2 linked regions of the Homo sapiens genome follow. The protein of the gene in region 1 interacts with the protein of each later gene in a pairwise test. Each region holds a gene or a part of one and is shown on either strand. Other genes may lie near its edges.

Region 1 (3,500 bases):
ATTTTTATTAAATGCATACTATTTTTAATGCTAGAAAAAATTGATTTACTTTCTATTATCAATCTTTCATTTTACATGTGGGGAAACTCAAGTTCAAAATTAGTGTTTGTCTCAGATCACACAACTAGTTACAGGCAAACTGAGACAATGATAATGACAACTACCACTCTGTTGACAAATATTTTCTTATGTGGCAAGCATGGGACCAACACTTTACACTGATTATGTTTAATCCTTGCAACAGGTCCATACTATCTATTATCCTCATTTTACAGATGAGGAAACATGGAGGCTTAAAGAAGTTATATAATTTTGCCCAGCCAAACCCAGGTCTGTACTGCTCTGCACTGCAACACTACATTGTCATTCTGCCTGTCTGTTACCATTCAATTCAGGGTTAGTCTTCTAGACTTGCGGTCACCAAACCAAATAAACCAGATGACCTACTACAGAATGGGAAAAAAATGCTAGAACTTTCTGGTTCCATTAGACTTTTTCCAATATTCCTTTACGTTTCTATTTTTATTACTTGCTAAAATATTAGTAAGTGGCCCACATACAACTACAAAGACACACAAAAATTGAGATATGTGAAAAATGTTATTGATAGGGTTCAAGGATAAGTGTTCATATTCAATTCCAAGGGACTGAAACACACTAACAATCTGACACTTTGATGTCACACTAGTATAGACTAGTTAGTACACAATAGATTATGACAAATTAAGTTCATATTAAATGATTATTTCACTGGCATAGAGATAATAAATCAGATCATCAGTCACAATGAGTTTCTCCAAGGTGAATCCACTGGAGTATGCCTTCAGAAGATTCTGTTAGATGTTGACTCTTTGTAGAATAAAAACCATAGGCTTCCCATTCCACTCTTCTATGAGGCAGAAAACAGATGGTGATCTGCCATGGAACTCACGCAAGAATATTTAGGTAAGAGTACATTCTAAGACTGTCCCTAAGACCCTAAAGACAACAGTATAAAGGGACTCCAGTATAACTGAAATGCATCAGTGTGTAGGAAGGTAGAGTGATTAGGAGTAAGAGATTCAACAGGGCCTTTCTATTTAGGTAAGTAATCCATTTACCTCAGCCTTCTCATACTTTGCCATTCTCTTCTTTCTGGAAATAACCTGAGTGGAAGAAAGACAACTATTGTTTTAGGACTGCTATTCAAAAAAAGATTATCTAAACAGACATATATGCTTTTAATGGACATAATTTTGATCTGAAAAAAAACTAATTTTAACATCTATCCATAAACATTTATTGCTTCTTAAATTAAAAATTTCACACCAGTGGAGTGGCTCATGCCTGTAATCCCGGCACTTTGGGAGGCCGAAGCGGGAAGATCATCTGAGGTCAGGAGTTTCAGACCAGCCCAGCCAACACGGTGAAACCCCATCTCTACTACAAATACAAAAATTAGCCAGGTGTCATGGCACGCACCTGTAGTCCCAGCTACTCAGGAGGCTAAGGCACCAGAATTGCTTGAACCCAGGAGGCAGAGGTTGCAGTGAGTGGAGATGGCATCACTGCTCTCCAGCCTGGGCTACAGAGTAAGACCCTGTCTCTTAAAAATAAATAAGGTGGGCTGGGCGTGGTGGCTCACCGGTACTTTGTGGGGCCGAGGTGGGCGGATCACTTGAGGTCAGGAGGTCAAGACCAGCCTGGCCAACATGATGAAACCCCCCGACTCTACTAAAAAAACAAAAAAATTAGCCAGGCGCGGTGGTGGTCGCCTGTAATCCCAGCTACTTGGGAGACTGAAGCAGGAAAATCACTTGAACCCGAGAGGCAGAGGTTGCAGTGAGCCGAGATGGCGCCATTGCACTCCAGCCTGGGCGACAGAGTGGGACTCCATCTCTAAAAAAAAATTAAAATAAAATAAAATAGGTCAGGCATGATGGCTCATGCCTGTAATCTTACCACTTTCAGAGGCTGAGGTGGGTGGATCACTTTAGGTCAGGAGTTCAAGACCAGCCTGGCCAATATTGTGAAACCTCATCTCTACTAAAGATACAAAAATTAGCCAGGCGTGGTGGCAGGCGCCTGTAATCCCATCTACTCGGGAGGCTGAGGCAGGAGAATAGCTTGAACCTGGGGGGCAGAGGTTGCAGTGAGCCAAGATCATGCACCATTGCACTCCAGCCTGGGCAACAGAAGGAGACTCTGTCTCCATAAATAAATAAAATAAAATAAAAACTTTCACTACTAAACAAAAAAAAGTCTACCACGACAAGTGAAACAAACAAACAAAAATCAAAATCAAAAACAATGCTGGATCCAATGGGACAACAGAAAAGAAAGAGAAAGAAAAAAAGGAAACAATGAATAATCTTTAAAGAAATTTAACAGTTTAGGCCAGGCATGGTGGTTCACGCCTATAATCACAGCACTTTGGGAGGCCGAAGTGAGCAGATCACCTGACATCAGGATTTCGAGATCAGCCTGGCCAACATGGTGAAACCCTATCTCTACTAGAAATACAAAAAAATTAGCCAGGTATGGTGGTGCACGCCTGTAGTCCCAGCTACTTGGGAAGCTGAGGCAAGAAAATGGCTTGAACCTGGGAGATGGAGGTTGCAGTGAGCCGAGATCGTGCCACTGCACTCCAGCCTGGGCAACAGAGCAAGACTCCATCTCAAAAAAAAAAAAAAAAAAAAAAAAAAAAAAAAAAAAAAAAAAAAAGAAGAAGCCGGGCACAGTGGCTCATGCCTGTAATCCTAGCACTTTGAGAGGCCGAGGCAGGCGGATCACGAGGTGATGAGTTCGAGACCAGCCTGGCCAATATGGTGAAACCCTGTCTCTACCAAAAAATACAAAAATTAGCTGGACATGGTGGCTTCTGCATGTAGTCCCGGCTACTCGGGAGGGTGAGGCAGGAGAATCAATTGAACCCGGCAGGTGGAGGCTGCAGTGAGCCGAGATCATGACACTGCACTCCAGCCAGGGCAACACAGAGAGACTCCTTTTCTTTTTTTTTTTTTTTTCAGATGGAGTCTCGCTCTGTCACCCAGGCTGGAGTGCAGTGGTGCAATCTCGGCTCACTGCAAGCTCCGCCTCCCAGGTTCACGCCATTCTCCTGCCTCAGCCTCCCAAGTAGCTGGGATTACAGGTGCCCGCCACCACACCTGGCTAATTTTTTGTATTTTTAGTAGAGACAGGGTTTCACCGTGTTAGCCAGGATGGCCTCGATCTCCTGACCTCGTGACCCAGCTGCCTTGGCCTCCCAAAGTGCTGGGATTACAGCAGTGAGCCACCACGTCCGGCCAGCGAGACTCCATTCCAAAAAAAAAAAAGAAAGAAATTTAACAGTTTGGTGTGCATTCTTCCACATCCTCCTTTTCCACACTAATACAAATATCATATATAAACACATGCATCTAAGTTTTGGGGTCTAAAAATGGGACCATGCAGTATCATCACCACCTGTGCACAGCTTGTATCAACATCATAGCAACCATTCCAGATCCAAAGATAAAGAT
Region 2 (3,500 bases), on another chromosome or scaffold:
GTTTGTCAAATTTCTCTTCCTGACAGTGCTGATACTTGAACACATTGAAATCTTGAAGAAAACAGGTAAGTCAACAATTAGCTCACTACAGAAATGGGCATACCTAGTGAATTAGTACCTTTGGTTAACATTCTAAGGTTATTTAAAAACACAACTTGTTTTCCATTTCACTGTCAGAGCTGGGTAAAATGAAAGACAAGCCCAGCCTATCTTTGCCTTTTCATCCACTCGATTCTGAATCACTTAGGAAAATATGTAAGTGACGGGGTCAAACAATCCTCCCATCTCAGCCCCCCAAGTAGCTGGGGCTACAGATGTGCACCACCACACCTGGCTAATTTTTGTATTTTTTGTAGAGGTGGGGTTTCGCCTTGTTACCCAGCTGGTCTTGAACTCCTGGACTCAAGCAATCCGCCTGCCTCGGCCTCCCAAAGTGCCAGGATTACAGGTGTGAGCCACTACACCTAGCCAAGGCTAAGGTTAAGGTCATGGAGGAGGCAGGCATAGTATTAGGAAAGCCAATTAGAGAAGAAGCCAGCGGCTCACTCTGTGAAAGTTAACAATAAACAGGCCAGGCGCGGTGGCTCACGCCTGTAATCCCAGCACTTTGGGAGGCCGAGAAGGGCAGATCACGAGGTCAGGAGATCGAGACCATCCTGGCTAACACGGTGAAACCCCGTCTCCACTAAAAAAATACAAAAAATTAGCCAGGCGTGGTGGGGGGCGCCTGTATTCCCAGCTACTCTGGAGGCTGAGGCAGGAGAATGGCGTGAACCCGGGAGGCGGAGCTTGCAGTGAGCCGAGATCATGCCACTGCACTCCAGCCTGGGAGACAGCGAGACTCCATCTCAAAAAACAAAAACAAAAACAAACAAACAAAAAACAATAAACAAATACCTCTTCCCTGACAAGTTAGTTTTAGAATCAGCACTAGATAAGGAGTGGGGCAAGTTCGTGTTCTCTAAGAAAAAGGGGCCTAGGGGATAAGAGGGACTAGAGACACTACCTCATGTCAATCTCATTAAAAGTTGTCAGCATTGCACATGTATTCTGGGCCTCCTTCAGACGCTGAGCAATGCGCTGCCGCATCCTGTTCATTTTCTCCTGAAAGTAAGAGTGGAACAAGCATTGACAATCTGATCTCTCTGGGTCAAGCATTCCCCGTGTAGTCAGAAAGAACACGGCTTGCCACGAGTAGATGGCCAAGGACTACAGTATCTAAGTACACGAGCTCCAGGCTTCCCTTTCCTGTGGTGGCCCTTTCTCCTCCAAGCAAAAACATGCAAACACAGGCCAAAACTACTCACTCAGATGTGCCTAAAGCTTGACCAAGAATGAAGGCTCAGAAACAGTGATTTAAAAACCAAAACCCATTTATAAAAGAATGTAGTGTAGTGTAGTCTAGCCAACATAAGAATCATAAGAAAAAGGGCACTTTCTGTTGATAAAGATTTGCATAAGAATAGCTATTTGTGGAACAGAACCTCATGAGCAACAAACTTTCGAGGCTATCATATTTTTAGGAAGTATTCTCAGGCAGAGGAACCACAATCCTGACCATACTTCCTTGAGGCTTTATGTCTGCACCTGACAGCTATTGCTACTGAGTATTATCCCTTAGCTACAGCTAAGTATCCCAGAAGTATAGGAATAGAGCTCACTAAACCACCTCTCTGAAGCGTGTGACATCGTGGGAGGACGGGGGTGAGTTACTAAGCTACCACCCCTACAAATATTTAACTTACCCAAGGCTTTCACTGGTAGCATAATATAGTAGGAAAACCACTGAACAAGTGTTCAGAAGACCTCAGGTTCTAGTCCTATCATTTGATGGTTATGTGACTATGAAGAAGTTATATCCTAAACTCCCTTTATCAAGGTTGAGGGAATGAGCTGCCAGGCATTCAAAGGTAGGCATCACCACACCCATACTCCACTAATCTCAACACTGCCCCCTGCCTCTTTCCTGAAAGTGGTCCTCAGAGGCTTACCCGATGTTCTGAACGCAGACCTTTGCCAGCTCCTGGCTCAGCTAGTGGTGGGGCAACAGTGGGTTTTACTGCAGACACTGAAAATGAAAAGAGGATAAAGCTGCATCAGACAAGGAAAGAAACATCTGCTGAGTTTGTGCCAGTGCTTTCATATGTACTGTTACTTAATCTTCAAGATATTCTGAGGTATATTAGTATCACTCCAACTTCACAGATGAACAATCTGTTCAGATAAATTAAGTGACTAGCCTAAAGACACACAGCTAGTAACAGAAAGCTGAGATGCAAAGCAGGCCTTTGGATACAAAGTCTAGAATTCTTTCTACAAAGCAGCCAACCTGGCCTGTTCAGAACCATCATCAGTCTAGAGTTTACCCTTTGAAGGAACATATTAGACGAGATGTTCTCCCACATGACATGTGGGAGTTGGAAGCCTACCAGGTTTGCCAGAAGGAGGCTGTGAGGGCGAGGGCACCGGTGGCATCTGAGTGGGTATGGGTGCTGCAGGGGGAGGAACTGCCGCTGCTGTAGGTTCTGCTTTTGGGGCTGCAGCAGCAGGAGCTTCAGCCGGCTTGGCCTTAGCAGGAGCAGCTGAAAAACAAGAAAAGTATATGCCACTGGCACTGTCTGAAATGAGAAGCAACCAAGCAAAATTTAGTGGCAAAAACTCTAGCTCCAATCAAGTAACGAATGTCTACTGGGTATCAGCAATATGCAAAGCACTATGAGACACACACACAATGACATAAGGCACTATTCTCTAGTCCTCAGGGTCCCTAAATGTCCATCAGATAACTGGCTCAACTTAGCTCCCTTCCCAATTTCACAGGTTTCCACTGAATAAATTCAGCAAGTACTTTCAAAGCACCTATCAAGCCCAAGAAAATGTAAACTTCCAAGGAAAAAAAAAAACACCTAGGCAATTTAAAATATTGAAATGCATACATAAACATATTTCTAATTACTGATACTCTTCATCCTCTATTTTAACATTATATATGCAAGAATACTATTAAAAAATAGGCTGGGTGCAGTTGCTCACGCCTGTAATCCCAGGATTACAGGCCAAGGGATTACTCCCCTTGGGAGGCCAAGGCAGGCGGATCACAAGGTCAACAGATCAAAACCATCCTGGCCAACATGGTGAAAGCCCGTCCCTACCAAAAATACAAAAATTAGCTGGGCGTGGTGGCATGTGCCCATAGTCCCAGCTACTCGGCAGGCTGAGGCAGGAGAATCACTTGAACTCCGGAGGCGGAGGTTGTAGTGAATCAAGATCAGGCCACTGCACTCCAGCCTGGCGACAGAGTGAAACTCCATCTCAAAAAATAAAATAGTCATCGAGGGTTGACTTAGGCTTAAGAAAGCACTTCATCCAGGATGACTCATAAATCACTGAAGTGGCCAAGTAATAATCTCACAACTTTAAATGAAATGTTTGTTTCTGTTTTTCACCCATCTGGACATTATATCCAGGGTTAGTGCTAAGACAAACTTCTGCAACAGGAG

What was found. The genes of interacting proteins can lie anywhere in the genome.
Region 2: the proteins of EPCAM (region 1) and DLST interact in binary tests that used the Homo sapiens proteins (3 or more experiments, as listed by UniProt).

Annotation. Positions count from the first base shown.
Region 1 is NC_000002.12:47,382,811-47,386,310, reverse strand, and holds part of EPCAM (epithelial cell adhesion molecule precursor), read right to left. Parts: intron 1,146-3,500; coding exon 1,101-1,145; intron 1-1,100.
Region 2 is NC_000014.9:74,891,916-74,895,415, reverse strand, and holds part of DLST (dihydrolipoyllysine-residue succinyltransferase component of 2-oxoglutarate dehydrogenase complex, mitochondrial isoform 1 precursor), read right to left. Parts: exon of another isoform or gene 3,358-3,500; intron 2,583-3,357; coding exon 2,430-2,582; intron 2,069-2,429; coding exon 1,992-2,068; intron 1,105-1,991; coding exon 1,007-1,104; intron 1-1,006. UniProt on the Homo sapiens protein: Dihydrolipoamide succinyltransferase (E2) component of the 2-oxoglutarate dehydrogenase complex. The 2-oxoglutarate dehydrogenase complex catalyzes the overall conversion of 2-oxoglutarate to succinyl-CoA and CO(2).